Linked DNA regions of Homo sapiens: region 2 is linked to region 1. Evidence: fine-mapped expression QTL. A gene starts in region 1. The other region holds a variant in brackets. All regions are shown on one strand. Distances are between the middles of the regions.

Region 1 (10,518 bases):
CTGGGAAAGGCATCTCTGGTCCTCTTCAAAGGCTGTTAAGCCCCCGTCCTCCATGGGAAGAAGGGAGGCCAACTGCCAAGCTTCCAACTCTAACAACTAGAAAACAACATGAAGCTGATTAACATCTGCAATGCAAAAACACAAAGACAGTTTAACCAACTAATTTATAATGCTGAGTTCAGCTCGGCCCCAAAAGACATACACCACCAACCGCCATCCTGGGTCAGAACCCGCAATGGGAGAATGGTCCACCCAAAGTGGTGCTAAAAGAAGCTCTTTCCGGGCCAGGCACGGTGGCGCACGCCTGTCATCCCAGCACTTTGGGAGGCTGAGGAGGGCGGATCACGAGGTCAGGAGATCGAGGAGATCGAGACCATCCTGACTAACACTGTGAAACTCCGTCTCCACTAAAAATACAAAAAATTAGCCGGGCATGGTGGCGGGTGCCTGTAGTCCCAGCTACTCGGGAGGCTGAGGCAGAAGAATGGTGTGAACCCGGGAGGCAGAGCTTGCAGTGAGCCGAGATCACACCACTGCACTCCAGCCTGGGCGATAGAGAGAGACTCCATGTCAAAAAAAAAGAAAAAAAAAAAGAAGCTCTTTCCAAGAAAAATACATAGGAAGATATGGGAAAGAGGGAAGGAGAGAGAGAGGAAAACAAAGAACAGGGTGGGAAGGAGCCATGAGGGAAGGCAGGGACTGCAGGTACACACCAACTGAAAATACTCCCAGGTCATGATGAACCCATCAGCACGTGGGGGCTGCACAGCTCCCATGGTCTCAGCTTTCCCCTAAACAGTGAGTCCTGACCATCCGACCAGCTGTGCACAGAATCACCTGGGTGCTGCCAACAAGTGAGGTCGCGGGGGCCATGGCCAAGAGGCCATGTCTCCTAGAGACAGGCCTGGCACCAGAGATTTGTATTTTTAGCTTTTCTCTTATACATGATTCAAATGCTGATACAGGGTGGAAATACAGGAAAATCTCACATACTCTTCCGAGTTCCCTCTCATGGTGACATCTTACAGGAGAGTGTCACAGCCAGGAAACTGACTTGATACCATCCATCAGCCTCGTCCAGATTTCAAGGCATTTACCTGCAGGTGTGTGTGTGTGTGGGTGTGCGTGTGTGTCCGTGCGTGTGTGTGCGTGTGCACATGTGTACATGAGCGTGTGTGTGTGCGCGCATGTGAGCACGTGTTCCATGCAGTCTTGTCACATGTATACATTCATGTGACCACCCTGCAGAGTGGAGATACTTAAGAGTTCCATCCTGCATATTGGCAAGCACTTGAAACACAAGTACACATTTACCAATACCCTGTCCTCATGGCCAAACTCAACAAAAAGAGCCCTTAAAGCAAGAAGATTTCCTCTACTGGCAGGAAGCCCCCACCTGGTCATCCAGGCTTTAGATAAACAGCAAGAGGAGGCTGTGGCCAATACCAGAACCATGGCTGGAGTTTCCCCCACGAAATGAGGAGACCCTGGGGCCAAGGCAAGCCCAACCACACCCCATATACCCTCTTCTGGACCACCTTCTGGGTATCCAGAACCCCAGAGTTCCCAGCCAAAGGGTCTGGTGCCCACTTCTAAGACACACACAGGCCTCTTTCCACCCAGGTCCTCCCACACTGGCACACCTATAGCCGTGAACTGGCTGAGGAGCAGCCTTCCAGGAATAGCGAGCTTGGACAAGCTAGCAGGATGCCCACACGAGGCCCTTCCAAGACAAGGCAGGCCTGGGGTGAAGAGGAAAGGGGAGGTGGCCCTCCCAACACCACCTCTTCCAATATGGAACTCCAAGGAGTCCCCCCTCCTTGCCTTATCCTAGCATCTGGTGGCTACTGGCCATACTGGCCATCTTTGGTGTTCTTGACCTGCAGCTGCGTCACTCCAGTCTCCGCCTTCGCCATCACAGAGCTTCTCCCTGTTTGTTTGTTTCTTTTTTTTGAGACAGAGTCTCGCTGTGTCGCCCAGGGTGGAGTGCAGTGGCGCGACTTCGGCTCACTGCAACCTCCGCCTCCCGGGTTCACGCCATTCTCCTGCCTCAGCCTCCCGAGTAGCTGGGACTACAGGCAGCCGCCACCACGCCTGGCTAATTTTTGGTATTTTTAGTAGAGTCAGGGTTTCACCGTGTTAGCCAAGATGGTCTCGATCTCCTGACCTCGTGATCCACCTGCTGCGGCCTCCCAAACTGCTGGGATTACAGGCGTGAGCCACCGCGCCCGGCCGACTTCTCCCTGTTTGTATGTATCTTCACATGGCCATCTTTTTTTTTAACTAGGAGATGAGGTCTCACTATGGTGCCCAGGGCATAAAAGATCTGATCTGTGGAAGTCAAAACACTAAACTTTTTAGCCAGGCAGGTCTCGTGGCCTGCACCTATAGTCCGAGCCACTCTAGAAGCTAAGGCAGGATAATTGCTTGAGCCCAGGGAGATGGAGGCCAGCCTAGGCAACAAAGCGAGACCTGTCAAACCAAATAAAATATAAAATAAAATCACTAAGTTTTTAGGAGAAAAGAGGCTATCTGTAAGACTTTGGGGTAGGGAAAGTTTTCTTAAACAAGGCACAAAAAACTCTAGCTATAAAATAAGATTAATAAGTTTAACGTTAAAATTGAGAACACATCACACCTGTAATCCCAGCACTTTGGGAGGCCGAGGCAAGCAGATCACGAGGTCAAGAGATCAAGACCATCCTGACCAATGTGGTGAAACCCCATCTCTACTAAAAAAAAAAAAATTAGCTGAGCATGGTGGCACACACCTGTATTCCCAGCTACTCTGGAGGCAGAGGCAGGAGAATCGCTTGAACCTGGGAGGTGGAGGTTGTAATGAGCCGAGATGACACCACTGCCCTCCAGCCTGGCGACACAACCTGGCAGGTGGAGGTTGCAATGAGCTGAGATCACGCCACTGCACTCCAGCCTGGCGACACAGCGAGACTCCGTCCCCCCCAAAAAAAAGAAAAAAAAAAATGAGAACACAGCTTCACAAAGAATACCATAAAGAAAACGAAAGAACAAGCCACAATTTGGGAGAAGATATTTGCCACATACATAACCAACAGAAAATTAATATCCAGAATAGCTTTAAAAGATCAACTATTTAAAATTTAAACATTTTTAAAAGACACATGGCCCAATAAAAAATGTCAAGAAATAGGAACAAGCGTTTTACAGGAGAGGAAATCCTAATCATGATGATGTTATACCTACTAAGTCAGCAGAAATGAAGAATCTAGTAATACCCAATGTCAAAAAGGATTTGGATCAACAGGAACTCTTAATACATTAATATAATCTCTTTAGAAAACAATTCAAGTGAAACATTTGTCTATATGGATACAGCACTTTTCACTTAGATTTATATTTCAGAGAAATTTTTGCAAACAGATAAGAAGACACCAGAATGTTCGGGACAATATGGTTCTCAATGGCAAAGAGACAGGCAGAAAAAAGGGAGGGAAGAAAGGGAGGGAGTGCGGGAGAGAGGGAGGAAAAAAGGAAATGAAACCCAAACACTCTTTAACAAGAAGATAGATTTTAAATTCTGGTATATTCATACCACTAATTACAGCAGTGAAAACAAATAAACTACACACAAGGGTGAATCTTAGCCATATACGAGTGGAAAAAATCAAGTTACGGAAGACAATCAGCAGGAGGATTCCTTTGTCATGAAATAATCTAAATAAGTAGTTCAGGGAAACACACCTATGTAATTAAACTACTTCTTAAATAAGAGACTGGTAAACCTAAATTTCAGGCAGGTGGTTCCCTCTGGGTCAGGCAGGTGCAAGAGTGGGGAAGAGGCACAAGGGCACAGGTCCCCTGATTTCCTAGGGTGATGGGTTCAAATGCATCCACTCTGCTGGTACAATTCATGACTAACACTGCCTTTATTCTTTTGTATGAATAAACTGATACGGCCAAAAAATTCAGAGACATTCACACACAAACCCAGCCTAGGACCCTGGAAGGCAAAGGCTCTGCAAACCTGCAGATGTGTAGGAAGCTATTACATATAGGGTTTGGGGTTCGAGTGTGCAGCTTTCCTACAAGCAGCAACAATGAATGGGACCTTTAGTTACAGGTTTACATCTCCTTCTCTAAGCATCCAAATGCACTAATTATTGCCATAATAAATAACAATGACATGATTATAGTGTGAGGCAGTTTTTTCTACTTTTAGAACCAACCTATAGACAAAGCTCAGGACACTTAATTATAGCTTCAGAATACATTGTAAATGTTGTAAAACCTTACTTTCTTAAAAAAGTAATATAACTCTTCAGAATACATTGTTAGAAAACTTTAATTCCTAAAAAATATAACTCTTCAGACTGCAATGTCAATGTTACAAAACTATTTTAAAAAGTCATATACCCAGTACTTTGGGAGGCCAGGCAGATTACTTGAGCCCAGGAGTTCGAGATCAGCCTGGGCAACATAGGGAGACCCCATCTCTACAAAAAAAAAATTAAAAATTAGCAAGGTGTGGTGGCACATGCTGGTAGTCCCAGCTGCTTGGGAGGTTGAGGTGGGAGAATCGCTTCAGCCCAGGAGGCGGAGGCTGCAGTGAGAGGACACAGCACCACTGCACTCCAGCCTGGGCCACAGAGCAAGACCCTGTCTCAAAAAATAAAATAATAAAAAAGTAATATAACTATTCAGAATATATTGTAAATGTTACAGAAGTTTCTTTGTAAAAGTAACTAACATGAAATGGAAAGGGGGAAAAAAAGCAAAGGGAGGGTAAGGGCATGCAATTTTTTGTCCTTCATGGGAGAAAGTAAATAAATACCAACTAAAGTTGTGGAAGTTTAATTAGGTTACTGAGAGTTACAAGCCTATCCAGGAGGGAAACTGATGGGACCCTCTGCGGGAGCGGGGAGGACAGCAGGAAAGATGCATCCTTTTTCCCGCTGTGCCTCCTGGGCATCTGAAGTCCACGTGGGCCAGTTTGTCACTGAACAGCATAGGCCCCTGGAGCCTCCCGTGCACTCCACAGCCACAGCCTGGCCTCAAGAAAGAACAGAGTCTGGCTTCACATGACCTTAGATCACTAAATTTTGACTCAGACGTTAACCAGAAATACCTGCACGTCCAGGCCCAAATTTTTAAAATTGTCCTTTGTATCCACTGTGAGCTGCAGACACGGGAACCCAAACCCAGCAGACAGCACCTAATGGTGCCACCGAGTAACCATATTCCCATTGCTAGTTTTGATTCCAGAAGACACAAGTGACCCCACCTCAGACCAAACAGAAGCAAGGACAACTTTGCAGGGAGCATCTCGGCGAACTTCTAGAAGCAACTGTCCCCCTCCCACCAGAACATAAGCTAAGAAGCAAACAGCTCCCATTGCTGTCAGCACAGCTGTACAACAAAAAGGAGAACCAGTTTCAGGATGAGGCCAACAAGGTGAACAGTGCAGTAGAACACAGCAAGGATGTCAGTCCTGGAGGAGGCACCTGCAGAGCCGGGCCCTACCAAGCAGAGTGAAGAAGTCTTTCAGAGGCAAAGCCTCCCAGAGAGGAGTTCAGTACCCAGAAGAGTAGGTGGACGTGGGCCTGGAAGGGCCAAGCATGAGCCCAGAGCCTCCTATGCCTGCCCAAAGTCTTAATTTTATCCCCAAAATGAACTTTTAAGGATTCAATGCTTAGGAGTAACATGGCCAGATATGCATTTTACAAAGATTACTCCAGGGACCATGTCGGTGCAAGGCTGGAAAGCAGGAGAAAGGCTACAGTAATCCAGGCAAGAAATTATAAAGTCTTAAATTAAGGTAGCAGCAGAAAGATGAAGAGAGGGAACCCCTAAGAGAAAAATGGACATCGAATGGTACTGAGATGCGGAAGGTAAGGACGAGAAAGGCCTCAAGACGGCAGCGCAGGCCCCTGCCGTACTCTGGGAAAGAAAAATTAGTGAAAAAATTAAGGCTCAAGTCCAGGTCTTTGCTGTAACCACGAGCGCCGGCGGCGCGCGCCCCCGACCCCGCGGCGCCGGCTGAGCCCGCAGGGACCCACACGCCCAGTGCAGGAGGCTGGCGGGATCCGGGCTGGTTCTCCTGGAGCTCGCCCCGCAGGGCCGGCTGCGGTGAAGAGAGCGCAGGGTCCCGAGGCGACCCGAGGCGCGGGGCCTCGGCGCCCACCGGGCAGGCTACACTGAAGGGCACCCCGAAGACGCTGGGGGCGCGGGGCCCAGGGCCAACGGCCGCAACCCCGCCGCGATTTGGGCACGGAGAGGACGCGGGCTCGGCGGTGCGCGAAGGGCGACGGGCGCAGGGGCGGGAGACCCGGGGTCGGGCTGGTCTAAGAGTCGGGCGGCGGATCCTCCTGGGCCAGGGGCGCGGAGCCGCGCAGGCCCCACAGCCGCCCTGGGGAGATGGCGGAGCCCGGCCCGCTCTCCCGAGCGCAGGTATCTCACCTGGATCAGGCGAGGGTCACGCCAAGCCGGCTACACACCACGGAAAGGAGCCCTTCCGCGCTTTTATCCCACCGACCAATCGCACAGCGACTAGCACCGATTGACAAGCTCCACGGACCAGCCACTTGCGCGTATGGGCGGGACTAAGCTAGCCAGAGTCTAGAAGCCCGCGCTAAGGGTTGCTAGGGACGCACCAAACACCCCTACGGCGCTTCGGAGGAGCCAAAGGAATAATGGGCGCCTCCGCCCCCGGGCCGGGCAGATGCGGTTTCCTCCCGACTCGCGATCAAAATGGGTGAGTAGCGCAGAGCTCGCCTCTTGGAGGCCTCTTTCTGAAGGCGGAGGACGCGGGGCGGCTCGTTCATGGGCCGGGTGGCTCCGCAGGGTAGACGAAGGCTGCAGCGTCCGCACTGGGCTGGGAACGACTTGCAAGGGGAGCCCAGCTGGCGCCCCGGAGCCAGCCAGCTGGCTAGCGGCCCCACCAGCGCAAGTGCCCCGCACCTGCCCGCCTGCTCCGAGCGTCAAGAGAAGGCGGCATTTCGCATGGGTAAAATCCGCGCGGGGACGCCGGGAGAATGTTGTTGCTCTTGCCGTTCGGCCCATTGTACAGACGCAGCCAGCGAGGCTCGCAGAGGTCAGGGATGCACGTAGGACTGGCCCGCACCTTGCAGCCACGGAAAGATCCGCCTGGCCCGCGGCCCCTCCACGCCTCCGAGGTCGAGACAGTGACATAAGTCAACTCTCAAGCCCAGGGCGTCTCTCCACTCTGCCTAGACGTCCACTCCGTCTGCCTGCAGCTACGGCTCTGTGCGTCCCGCTTCGACTCCCTCTGCTTTCCTTCCCAGCTTCTCGCCTCCAGACTGTTCCGGCTCCGCCGCCTGAAATTACCTGCTCTGGGGGAGGCGCGGCGCGCGGCCTCATGACGGAACTACAACTCCCATGAGGCGCTGGGCCCACGCAGGCGCGGCGCGGCTGAAGTCGCCGCGCCGGAATCCCATTGGCAGGGCCGGCTCTGAGGCGGGAGCCCTGATTGGCTGAGGGGTCTGAGGCGACAGATTCCGGAAAGGGGAAGAGCAGCCAACATGGCGGCGGAACGCGGCGCGGGGCAGCAACAGTCGCAGGAGATGATGGAGGGTGAGCGGCCCCTGCGGGCGGCGGCCCAAGGGCCCAGCGGGCGGGGGGAGCTGCGGGCTGGAACTGCTCCGTGCCTGAGAGAAACTCCACGTCCTGCCTCTGGCCGCCGCCGCGCGGCCCCCTGACAGCTGACAGCCGGACCCGGGGGAGCGGGGGAGGCGCTGGACCTCGGGGGAGCCCCGGCCCGGGGGCGGCAGCGGCCGGGAAGGACCCAGAGCTAGGGGGAGAGCGGCGGCGCGAGGCCAGGCCGGGGGTGGGGCTGAATGGGACGCGGTGGCTCCATTCAGTCCAGTTGGAGCCTCGCCCCGAGCCTCTGAGATTGACGGGCGGGGGAGCCTCCTCGGTCAGCTGACGAGGAAACTGAGGCGCTGGGATCTACCAGAGTCTGCTCCTTGGTTCACGTGGTGAGGGTGGAGAAGGGTCTTCTCTTGAAATCGAATGGACTGTTGGGAAGGGGTAACAAGGAACCGGAAGATTGAGTTACACAAGGTGATACCTGTTTTCAAAGCTGTCATAGTTCCAAAAAGTCTGAATTCAACTTTCTTCCTCCTCATTCACTTTGTTGGAAAAAAAAACCACATGCATATATGTATATGTTATACGTACACATGTGTTTATAATTTTCTGCATATCTGTAGGTACAGTCATATACGTGCACGTACAGTATGTGTGTAAAAATGCGTGCACACACCCACTTAGCAACTGGGGAATCAGTTGTGTCATCAGCTTAAGTACTTTTGGGTCCCATGGTTTGGTGAGGGGTACAGACCTCCCAGAAGAGCAGTCACTGCCTTATGTGAAAGGGGTAGGGAAGAGGAATGTGGAGCTGGGGAAGGAGGGCGGGTGCAGCAGGAAGGCCTGACATGTTAGGGAGTGGTGACAGCTGCAGAAGCAGGGCGAGCTCTGAGCTGGAGCCTGAAGAATAACTCGAAGGCAACGAGGTTGGGGATAGGGTGAGGGAAAAGAGCAAGAATCACTCAAGACGGAGAAAACTGCTGTCAAAAGGTGTGGAGGAGAGTTTGACCAAATCGTATGTGGTGGGGATGGGGGCGGTAGTGTTAAGGGTCTTGGACTTCATACCCTTTGAGTCTTTTTAAGAAGCGCCTCTTCATATCCTCCCACTCCCTCTTCAGCTGTTTCCATGTCTTGGTAAATGACAGATATAAAAGCCCGGCTTTTCTCACTGTCCCACTCCCACCCATGTCCTGTTAGTCAAGGAGCTCTGACTTTTACTTTTGAAAGTATCTCCAAATCTCCGATACGTCCTCCATTCCCATTGCCAGTACCTTAACTCAGACCTTCATCATCTCTAGGCTAGATTGATTGTCCCTGTTCACCAGCCCATCATCCCCAGTACACCAAAGTCATTTTCTTACATGCAGAGCCACTGTCCCATGTTCCAGACCCTCTCTGCTGCCCTCAGGCTTCACTTTGGCCAACCTTCGTTAGCTAAGCCTTTGCTAACCTCACACCACTCCTCCTCTTACTGGGGTTTTTGTGCCAGATTGTCATGCAGTAGAACTTTCTCTCCCTGAGCCTGGACCACCAAGTGACCTGTGCCTGGTGGTGACTAATTTGTTATATATCTACTGCATGTCATGCACGTGCTAACTGCTCTTGTGCCTTTTCTAATTTAACCGTGACAGCAACTTGCTGAGGCATAGGTGCTATACTAGCTCCCTTCCACAGACTAGGAGATTGAGGCTTTCAAATGGAAACGATTTGCCAAAGCTGCATCTCTAGCAGCAAGATGCAAACTCAGGAAGAGCATTCCAGAAATACTTTTGGACTCAAAAGATCAGATTTGGATTTTAGAATTAGATCAGACTCTCTGGCAGGGGAGAATAGGTTAAGCAGGGCAAGACAAGTCACAGAGACGAGTTAGGAGGCAGGGCAGGAGCCCAGGCTGCAGCTAATAAGTAAGTGAGCCACCGTCATTGCGGGGGTAGGGAAGAAGAGATGGATTTGGAGGTTTTGGAGGTGGGTTTTATAAGGACTTGTTTTCTACAGCAATCCTTTCTTGGGTTTTACTTTGCTAGGCTAAGCGGGAAGTACAAAGATGAAGTTGAACTTTTTCCCTCAAAGAGCACATCTCTTTGTAGATAAACCATAGTCAGGAAAGAGTATTTTCAGTATGGTTGATAATTCCAAGTAATGTGTTAGTGCCTCATGTTTTCCAGACAGACTTCCAAAAGAGGTCATGAGTAAAGTTATAAAAAAGAAAAATGATTTGACAACCTTACCAAAGAATTTTTACCTGACACATTGAATTGCCTTATTCTTTAATTCAAAAAATATTTATGAACCTTTAAAAGCCTTAAGTTGCTAACACTCTGTCCAGTGTCCAGTGTGAAAGCTCATTTCACACCAATGAGCTTTCTGTGGGCGGTCAGCACTATTGGCTGTATTCTCCTTTTCCTTAGTGATCCTCCCTGCCCACAGTCTGATTTGAGTTAGTCTTGATTTCTTTCAGAACGTGGGCCTGTGAACTTGGCTGGTTTTCTTAGCCAGATAAATAGTGGAGCATGGATGGAGGTATGTGGCAGAAGGGTCACAGTGGTGATCCCCCAGCCCAAAAGTGAAAGGCACTCAGGAGGTGCTTCACTACCGGGTTCCATTAGTGGATTTAATCACAGGTGATCCAAGGCTTTCAGAACACTGGGCAATTCTTCACAAGCTCCTTGAGGGCAGAAGTAGTGTGTTCCTCACCTAAGTATCCATGTGGGCTCCACACTCTGCTCCCCATTCTCCCCGCGGCCATATGCCTCAAATGGTGCTGGGACATGGGAGACACTCAGATGTTCGTTGAACTGGATTCAACAAACATGTTTAAATGAAATCCTTTTGACTTACAACCGGGTGTTTATTATATGTTCCTCAAAGTCCCATAAAGTGGATGTGAATTCTCATTGACATGTGTGGGTTCAGTTGACAGGCGGGTCGAGTCTG
Region 2 (10,518 bases), 26 kb after region 1:
AAGGGTGGTACAGCCAGAGGAGCTCCCAGGCCACAGCCATAGCGCTTTCGAATTGGGAAAGCTACTGGCTGGGTACATTTCAGGGGAGATGGGGGGAGGAGTATTTGCTTTTGAGAAATTTTTTAACTTTCCCTTAAAACTTAGAAGGCTTTGGAATTGGAATACCAAAAATGCAGTAGAAAACCAAGGAAGGGACTCAGGAGGGAGCAGAGCGTGAGGGCAGAGAAGGGAATGAACTTTGTCAGAGGTTCTCAGACAGCTTGTAAATGTTTTCCTTTTGATGAGAAACAAAATTATTACTCAGGCTTAGCTAACATGTATTGGAAAGTGAGTAACTGATGTGCATTTTCAGAGTAGAAGATCCTAAAAACACACTCTTGTCTCCCAGTGGGGGCACACACCCTGCAGCAGGTGCTCAGCAGGCCCAGCACCCAGTCCTCAGCATGGGTCCCTTCTCTGCACTTATGCTCCCGGGACCCTTTTCCCAGACAAGAGTGTAGGCCTGGGGTCTGAGAGTCCTGCCTCTCCCACTGCTACTGTGCGCCTGGGCAGATTCTTAGCCCCACTGAGCCCCAAGTTCCTCATCCCTAAATGAAGAGAGGAACTTTGTTTTGAAGATTACTTGGTCGTACATTTCCTCGTGATGAGCACTAAGTAAATGTTTCTACAATTGTCAGCCTTTCTTCAGAGCGTCAGGGGGTTACTCGGTTCTTCCTGGGACCATCAGTCTCACTAGGTCTGTCTCAATGGACAGGGATCTGGGAGGACTGGGCTTGGAGTCTGACACAGTCTCAAATTCCAGCGATCAGGAGAGCTCAGGGAGATAGCTGGGCAGGCTCTGATGGAAACACTGTCCCAGGGAGGGCTGCAGGAAGCAAGCAGGTCTCGTCACCCTCCATAGCATGCCCTTACCCTGTGAGGGCAGAGAGGGCAGTGCACCTGCAGCCCTAAGGTCAGCACTTGACACTGCCTGCGTGGTCATGCAAATCACTGTTGATCAGAGGTAATCCAGGAAACATTTTATTTCCTTCTTTTAGAACAAACTCACGATGTTGGACATTGCATCAAATAGAATCAAAAAGATTGAAAATATCAGCCATCTAACAGAGCTGCAAGAGTTCTGGGTAAGTTTAATACACGCTGGGGTTGATGACACTTTGACTAAACTGGTCTCACTGATTAAAATGTCTTATGAATGAATACAAGAATCTCCTGTAAGCCTTCATGCTGAGTGACTCCGCACATCATGAGATTTGGGGTGGGCGCTCTTGTAGACTTGTATTGGGTGTTGTCTGTGCTCCTCAGCGTGAGCCACAGATCAGCAGCATTGACATAGCTTGTTAGAAATGCAAAATCTTGGGCCCCACCATAGCCCAGATGAAAACTGAGTCAAAATCTTTGCTTTACAAGACTCCGGGTGATTGCAGTACACACAAAGGTTGGAGAAGCCCTGATCTAGGTATGGGTAGAACCTACAATTGTCATTTGACCAAATGGTTTGCAAACCTCAGCAGAGAGGCAGACGCATTCCCTACAGATATATTCCAGCACAACAGAAGGAAATGTTGGATGGGTTTCTGCAGTTAGTCATCTTGGAATTTGCCTTGTATTTGTCTTGTCACAGGTATGGTTTCAGGAGTAGTGTTGTGGAGTCAGCAGGAAGAGAAACAGAATATAAGAAGTTTTTGCAGTTCCTCTAAAGGGGTTGGGAAATGATCCCCGAGTGGAAGTCTTCAGTGCTAGGATTCCCTTAGAGAAATCTCCTAAGGTTTATTGCCTTTCCGCTAGCACGTGGCCCTGCAGAGACTGCGGCACAGGTGTCACCCTGTGATGCTGGGAATGTAGTAGTGTCCTCAGATACATTCAGTCTAATCCAGGATTCATGCTGAGTGTAAGGCATCATTCTTCCTTGTCTCTCCTCTAGCCGTGCTGCTGACCCTGCTTATGTCCTGTGCTTTCTCCTTTCCCCACTTTAAAAGGTCATCCAAGTTTCCCTAGAACACAGGTGGCCTGCTGCAAATGTTCCTTGCCCCTTATTAGTGGCACTGGGTCTTGAGTAGTGTCATGATGGGATACCAGAGCATGTCTGGGAAGATCAGAGCCAGAATTTGGCAGGTGATAAAGATGTACCAGGCCAGGGGGAGCCTCAATGAGTCCAGGTGGGTCTATGTGCAGCCCACCCTTGAAGGAAGGTGTGGCTGGTGGTAGGCTGGTTGAATTAGTGCATAGGGAGTTGGCAAAGAAGCCAGGGAACAACACAAAGAAACCAAACAACAGGAATAAGGAGTCCAGAGACAGAGGACCAGGTGATAGGGAAAGGGCACCTGGCAAAAAATTAGGGAGCAGGTTTGGGAAACGAGCTGATACTGAAGCAATGTTCCTGAAGCGTAACGATTCCTTCTGCATGCCCTGCCTAGGAACAGAGCATGGGGCACAGAGTGCTGAGACCACAGGCAGGGGCCAACCTGGGTACCACAGCTAGCAGGGAGGCAGGCAGGCTGGTGATCAATCACTAGGGGCCAGGTAGTGCCTGACCCTGTAACACAGAAGAATCCTGTTCCTTAGGCCACCAAAGATAGTAAAAAATAGCCAGAATTTGCACAGCGCTTTATGGTGTCCATACCTCTCTCCATTCTGATCCAATTATCACAGCAACCATGTGGATAAGGTCATATTACCCCATTTTACAGGTAAAGAATTGCATTCCAGGAAGGAAAGCTGCAAACCAGGAATTCTCAAACTCAGTTCCATGCTCATATCACATTTGAGAGGCACATCATTCATCTCTAAGGCAGAAATAGAAAACCAGTCTTAACAAGTTTCTGATAACCCACATACTATGTTTGTTGATTTTTCTGCCTATTTGTTCCAATTACTGAGAGGAGAATGTTGAAACCTTCCAACTATAATTGTCAATGGATCCATTTCTCCTTTCAGTTCCATCAGTTTTTGTTTCTTGTATTTTGAAAGTCTGTTATCAGGTGCATACATATTTAGAATTGAGGAATTCTTGATGAATTGATCCATTTATCATATGAAATGTTCTTCTTTCTTGCTTATCCTCTTTATCCTTGTCCTGGAAGGGTATCTTGTCTGTTATTAACACAGCCCCTTCATCTGTCTTATGATTAGCGCTCTCATGGAATCTTTCTCCATCCATTTCCTCTTAACCCATGCCTTTATAATTAAAATGTGTTTTTCATAAAAAGTATGTAACTAGATCTTGCTTTCTTCTCCAGTCTGAGAATCTCTGCCTTTTAAGTGGTGTCTTTAGACTGCTTACATTTAATATAATTACATTTAATTACATTTTGTGTAATGGTTGAGTTTAAGTCTATCATCTTAGTATTTGTTTTTTATTTGTCTCATCTATTCTTTGTTTACTCTTTCCTACCTACTTTTTGGAGTGACTTTTTTTTTTTTGCAGTCTATTTTAACTCTATTATTGGCTTATTTGCTATACCTCTGTATTAGTGTTTTCTTGTTGATTGTTTGGAGGGAGGGTTGTTTTAGCGATTAGAATTTAAAAATACATTTTTAATTTTCACCATCTATATATTTTACATTTAAATATCTTACGATCCCCATGATACCTTATCTTTTAAAGAAATTTAAAAATGGCCAGGCGCAGTGGCTCATGCCTGTAATCCTAGCACTTTGGGAGGCCAAGGCAGGTGGATCACCTGAGATCAGGAGTTTGAGACCAGCCTGGCCAACGTGGTGAAACCCTGTCTCTACTAAAAATGCAAAACTTAGCTGGGCATGGTGGCACATGCTGTAGTCCAAGCTACTCAGGAGGCTAAGGCACGACAATCACTTGAACCTGGCAAGTGGAGATTGCAGTGGGCCAAGATCGTGCCACTGCACTCCAGCCTGGGCAAAAAAGTGAAACTCCGTCTCAAAAAAAAAAAAAAAGAAATTTAAAAACAAGAAAACTCACTTATTTTACCTTTTCTGGCATTGTTTATTCTTTCGTGTGGATCTGAGTTTCCACTTGGTATTTCCCTTCCACCTGAAGAATTCTATTGTTTTGTCGTGCATTCTGCAGTAAACCAATCCTTCACTTTGATTTGTTTGAAAAATCTATTTAATTTGCCTGCATTTTTGGAATTTAATATTATGGATACACAATTCTAGCTTGAGAGATTTTTTTTTCCTTTTTAAGTACATTAAATACTTTGTTCTTTCATCCTCTGGTTTGCATTATTTCTCCTTTATAAAATTTTTATTATTTTAAAAATATTTTTTAAAAATAAATAGAGATGGGGCCAGACACGGTGGCTCACACCTGTAATCCCAAGGTGGATCACTTCAGGTCAGGAGTTTGAGACCAACCTGACCAACATGGCGAAACCCCGTCTCAACTAAAAATTCAAAAATTAGCTGGGCGTGGTGGCACGTGCCTGTAGTCCCAGCTACTGGGGAGGCTGAGACAGGAGAATCGCTTGAATCCAGGAGGCAGAGGTTGCAGTGAGCCAAGATCATGCCACTGTAGTCCAACTTGGGCAACAGAGCAAGACTTTCTCAAAAAAAAAAAAAAAAAAAAAAAAGGACGGGATCTTGCCATGTTGCCCAGACTGGTCTCGAACTCCTGAGCTCAGACAGTCCTCCTGCCTCAGCCTCCCAAAGGGCTGGGAGTACAGGTGTGAGCCACCACACACGGCCCTGGTTTGCATTATTTCTAATAAGAAGCCAGCAGTCATTTTTATCTTTTTTCCTCTGGCTGCTTTTTAATGTTCTTTTTAATCATTGTTTCTTATTTTGTTTTGTTTTTTGCAACTTGAATATAGCGTGCCATGGTGTAGTTTATTTTCTGTGATGTGTCAGGGTTAACTGGGTCTGTGAATCTATGGTCTTCATCAAATGTGGAAAGCTTCTGGAGACTATTTTCTCTA[A/G]AACTGCTTCTGCCCTTGCTCCTCACCCCGGTTTCTCTCTGAAAACCCAGTTATGCATGTTCCCCTGGCACTAGCGAGGCCCCTGAGGCCATTGCCTCCACCCTGCTCCACCCCTTGGGCTTTCATCTTGCTGTGCTTGTTTGTATAATTTCTGTTGTTAAATCTTCAAGATCATGATCTTATCATCTGTAGTAGCCTATCTGCTGTTAAGCCCATGTCATGAATTTTTTATTTCAGATACTGTATTTTTCTCAACTCTAAAAGAACATTTGGCTTTATTTTTTTTTTTTTGGTAGATTATTTTTCTCTCTTCATTAGATTCATGTTTTCCTTTAAGTCCTTCCTTCTTCACGTCTTGTAATTTTTTATTAGATCCTGGGCTTTATGGTGTTCAATTGTTGAATGTCTGGAATTTATGTTGTTTTCCTTCAAAACATACTGAACTTTATCTGACAGGCAATTAAGTTACAGCTTGATCCTTTTGAGGCTTGTTTTTAAGCTTTATTAGAGTACATCTAAATAGTCTACTCCGTAAGATTAATCTAGCACTGTTTTGAAGCTGTGGCCCTCCTAGGATCTCTGGTGAATATCCTGTGTATTTAAGTTCTCTCCACTGTGGTTGACGGGAACACAAACATGGACCTGCTATGGGTGAGCTCTGGGCATTCTGCATCTTGGGGCTGCTTAGTAGTTCTTCGACCAGCCTTTAGCTTTTCACTCTGCCTAGCACAGCTTCATCTTCAGTCCAGGATTCCACAGGATACCATGTGGATTTCTGGAGGCTTTTTCCCTACATAGCTCACTCCTATCTATACATTCCAGCTCCCTTTGCCTCCCCAAACTACAATCACCATCTCAACTCTGTGTGGCCACCAGGCTCTGCTTGGGTTCCGCCTCCTTGTGGTCCTGAAAGTTCCTCCAGGCAGAAGGCCGGGATGATCACACCACCCACCTCATTTGTTTCCTGTCTCTCAAGAATCACTATCTGTGTTGCCTGTTGTCTGATGTATAAAAACAATTATTTCATATATTTTATCCTCTTTTTTTTTTTTTTGAGATAGAGTCTTGCTCTGTCGCCCAGGCTGGAGTGCAGTGGCGCGATCTCAGCTCACTGCAAGCTCCGCCTCCTGGGTTCACACCATTCTCCTGCCTCAGTCTCCTGAGTAGCTGGGACTACCGGTGCCCGCCACCACGCCTGGCTAATTTTTTTTGTATTTTAGTAGAGACAGGGTTTCACTGTGTTAGCCAGGACAGTCTCCATCTCCTGACCTCATGATCCGCCCGCCTTGGCCTCCCCAGGTGCTGGGATTACAGGTGTGAGCCACCGCGCCCGGCCTATTCTATCCTATTTTCTAGTAGCTTGTGACAAAGGCAGGAGCTCAGCACCAGCTATTCTGTCATGGCTTGAAACAGAAGTCCTACTTATTTATCTTACTTTTGTGTCTGTCTCCCCCACTGTATAATACAAACCTCATAAGGGCAGGGAAATTAGTGTTTGGTTTACTTTGTTTTCCCTCCCAATTTCTTTATTGTGGTAAAACATGCATAAAATAAAACTCACCATCTTAACCATGTGGAAGTGTACAGTGAGTGGTATTCAGCACATTCGTAATGGTGCACAGCCATCACCACCGTCCATCTCCAGGACTCTTTTCAACTTATAAAACTGGAACTCTGTACCCATTAAACAATAACTCCCTATTTTCCCCTTCCCAGACCTTGACAATGACCCTTCTACTTTCTGTCTCTATGAATTTAACTACAGACCTCATATCACTGGAATCATGCAGTATTTATTTTTGTGACTGGCTTACTTCACTCAGCATATTGACCTGAAGATTCACCCATTCTGTAAGCATGTGTCAGAATTGCCTTTCTTTTTAGGGCCAAATAATATTCCGCAGTATGGATATTGTTTTGTTCACTCTTATCTCACCAGCATCTGGAATAGTGCCTGATACACTTTTTTCTTTTGAGACAGAGTCTTGTTCTGTCACCCAGGCTAGAGTGCAGTAGCATGATCATGGCTCACTGAAGCCTTGGCCTCCTGAGTTCAAGTGATCCTCCCACCTCAGCCTCCCAAGTAGCTGGGACTGCAGGTGTGCACCAATGACCTGGCTACATTTGTGGGTTTTTTGTTTTGTTTCGTTTTTTGTTTTTTTGAGATGGAGTTTTGCTCTTGTCACCCAGGCTGGAGTGCAATGGCACAATCTCACTGCAGCCTCCGCTTTCCAGGTTCAAACGATTCTCCTGCCTCAGCCTCTCAGTAGCTGGGATTACAGGTGAATGCCACCACGCCTGGCTAATTTTTGCATTTTTAGCAGAGACGGGGTTTCACCATGTTGGCCAGGATGGTCTCAAACTCCTGACCTCAGGTAATCCGCCCACCTCGGCTTCCCAAAGTGCTGGGATTACAGGAGTGAGCCACTATGTCTGGACCATTTTAAAATCTTTTGTAGAGACAAGGTCTCACTGTGGTGTCCAGGCTGGTCTCAAACTCCTGAACTCAAGCAATCCTCCTGCCTGGGCCTCCCAAAGTGCTGGGATTACAGGTGTGAGCCACCATGCCCAGTCAGTGCCTGAAACATATTTGAATGAGCAGAAGGAACATAGAAAAGGCTGGCCAACTGGGTGGAGGCCAGCTACAGATAACATTGGAAAATATGTTATCCACATGTGTCAGATGCAGGGCTAACATCCTTACATTAAAAACAGCTCACACCCAGGTACCACTTGAAAACTAGGGTGTTCACAGAGCAAGAAGTAACAGTTGCTTGTAAATACATAAAGCATTTCCTATCTCATTAATTTTTTTTTCTTTCTTTTTTTTTTTTTTGAGATGGAGCTTTGCTCCTGTCGTCCAGGCTAGAGTGTAGTGGCACGATCTCGGCTCACTGCAACCTCCACCTCCCGGGTTCAAGTGATTCTCCTGCCTCAGCCTCCCAAGTAGTTGGGATTACAGGTGGCTGCCACCACCATGCCTGGCTAATTTTTGTATTTTTAGTAGAGACGGGGTTTTGCCATGTTGGCCAGGCTGGTCTTGAACTCCTGGCCTCCAGTGATCTGCCTGCCTCGGCTTCCCAAAGTGTTGGGATTACAGGCGTGAGCCACTGTGCCTGGCCATATCTCATTAACTTTTAAAATCTACTAAAACAGTGAGATACAGTGTTATCTGTCAGGTTGGTGAAGACTCATAGAATGCAGCTGCAACCAGCCTGTGATGGCAGCAGGCACTCTCGTGACTACGGAGATAGCTGTGTTTCATACAAGTTTTCTGTAGGGCATTTAGAGCCTTAAAAATACCACATGCAGCTGGGCACGGTGGCTCACACCTGTCATCCCAGCACTTTGGGAGGCTGAGACGGGTGGGTCACCTAAGGTCAGGAGTTTGAGACTAGTCTAACCAATATGGTGAAACCCCATCTCTACTAAAAATACAAAAATGAGCCAGGCGTGGCGGCATGCACCTATAGTCTCAGCTACTGGAGAGGCTGAGACAGGAGAATTGCTTGAACCCAGGAGGCGGAGGTTGCAGTGAGCCAAGATCGTGCCACTGCACGATCAGGTCAGGAGATCGAGACCATCCTAGCCAACATGGTGAAACCCTGTCTCTACTAAAATACAAAAATTTAGCTGGATGTGGTGGCACGCGCCTGTAGTCACCACTACTCGGGAGGCTGAGGCAGGAGAATCGCTTGAACCTGGGAGGCAGAGGTTGCAGTGAGCCAAGATTGTGCCACTGCACTCTAGCCTGGCGACAAAGCTAGACTCCACCTTAAAAAAAAAAAAATCATAGAGAGCTTCCTAACCAAGATTTAAAAATCAGTGAAAAAAGAAAGAATAGGTATATCTAATTTTATAAAGCGTATGTATTTTGCATGATGAAAGAGTCCATTGGTCGCCTGAGAGGTTAAGGTTAAGGTTATTTTCTATGACATACAAAAAGTTCTTTAAAGTGAAAGAAAGCGATTCAATAGAAAAATAGGTGGAGGATAGCAATACACAGTTCACCAATATGATGCATCCCGCCCCTGCCATACGCGACTTGTTTCAAGCTGACATCCAGGGCCTGGAGGGTGGGCTGAGACCAGCACTGCCCTGCTCAGGCCCCCACCCTCTTCCCAGTAATCCAGGGGAAAGGTAGCATCACAGTGACCAAAGGCAGTAGCCAGGGGAGGAGAAACATTTGGCAGGAAAGTTTCCACCCTCATGGTGTCTGATGCCGGCATGGAGCCCATCTGCCCACTGCCCTGCTGGCACAGGGGCTTCCCCAGGACCCTCCCAGATGCTCTGTTGGCAGATGCTGCCCGCTCGTTTAAGCCAAGTGATGCCATTTAAATTACATTGCAGGCCTGCTCCATGCCACAGCTGTGCTTCCTCAGCCCTCTTGATGGAATGCTTTCCTGTAGGCAGCGCCCTGCACAAGCAGCCTGTGCCAGCTTGGCACCCCTGACCCAGGGCTGTCTGGGTGTGAGCTGCAAGGAGCGGGGGGCACAGGTAGGGGCTGCTCGAGGAGAGGCTGTGTGCCTCCCTCCCAGCATGTGTGCCTGGCCTGGGCCCACTTTCTGCTCCCCTTCAGTCTAGTGATGGCCATTTCATTAGGTTTCAGTTGCATTCCTTTAATTACAGATGAGTCTAACCCTGGCGCCTCTGTTTTCAACCACTTTGTCCTTTTGTTCCCTCTTGATACTTTCTGCTAGCTTTAGTCCAGTGCATTTTCCCTTTTATTATTAACTTATAGAGATTCTATCAATGAATGATACTAAACCTTAGTATGTCATCTGTGTTGCAGATACTTTACTTTGTCACTGGTCTTCAGCTTTTTTTTTTTTTTTTGAGACAGAGTCTGGCTCTGTCACCCAGGCTGGAGTGCAGTGGCGTGATCTCGGCTCACTGCAAGCTCCACCTCCTGGGTTCACACCATTCTCCTGCCTCAACCTCCCGAGTAGCTAGGACTACAGGTGCCCGCCACCACGCTCCGCTAATTTTTTTTTTTTTTTTTTAGACGGAGTCTGGCTCTGTCCCCCAGGCTGGAGTGCAGTGGCGCAATCTCCGCTCACTGTAACCTCCGCCTCCCGGGTTCAAGGGATTCTCTTGCCTCAGCCTCCCGAGTAGCTCACCATCCCCACGGACAGCTCTCGATGTGGCCGTGCCTGTGTCTGGCAGCCTCACCATCCCCACGGACGGCTCTTGATGGGCCGTGCCTGTGTCACGCATCTCCTTTGTTAAACTGTCATGGAGATTTTCAGAAAATAAGTGATTTTTACATTCTACCAGTTGTTTATGAAATGTATCTTAAGAATTCTACCCATCTTTTGCTTAAAACATTACTGAGTTTGGGGTAATTAATGTGAATTTTCTATAATATCAGCCAAAAAAATTGTGAAGGGAAATACAGGTATCCTATGTATGTATATGCAAAATACACAGATAGAAAACCCCATAAATACAAAATGCAAGTTTGGGTTCCAAAAACCAAAAGAGTCTGCCAGGAAAACGTCAGCCAAGAAGATGTTCTCTAGCAGAATCCCAGCCGTTGGTTCGGGCAAGGGATCAGCTGCTGAGATTACTGGGAAGGATGTTGAAGAAGGGATGTTTGCACACAGGCCCAAGGATCATGCCA

Evidence for each region. PIP is the estimated chance that this variant, and not a neighbour inherited with it, causes the effect. A credible set is the group of variants that fine-mapping cannot tell apart.
Region 2: its variant is the best candidate, but not a certain one, in a credible set for the expression of PASK in nucleus accumbens (GTEx, PIP 0.52).

Annotation. Positions count from the first base shown.
Region 1 is chr2:241,142,979-241,153,496 of GRCh38, forward strand. PASK (PAS domain containing serine/threonine kinase) reads right to left here and starts at 6,494. Exons shown (of 18, transcript NM_015148.4): 1 at 6,436-6,494; 2 at 1-96. The coding sequence starts at 54. PPP1R7 (protein phosphatase 1 regulatory subunit 7) reads left to right here and starts at 7,489. Exons shown (of 10, transcript NM_002712.3): 1 at 7,489-7,569; 2 at 10,498-10,518. The coding sequence starts at 7,518. RefSeq lists enhancers at 5,448-5,607, 7,121-7,280 and silencers at 5,861-5,910, 5,961-6,020, 6,081-6,440, 7,571-7,910.
Region 2 is chr2:241,168,744-241,179,261 of GRCh38, forward strand. It overlaps PPP1R7 (protein phosphatase 1 regulatory subunit 7), which reads left to right. Exons shown (of 10, transcript NM_002712.3): 9 at 1,038-1,124. The region is part of intron 2 of LOC105373971 (a long non-coding RNA gene); the gene reads right to left. Among named protein-coding and RNA genes, the nearest start is that of ANO7, 15 kb to the right of the region's middle. The variant A/G (reference allele first, on the strand shown) is at 4,896.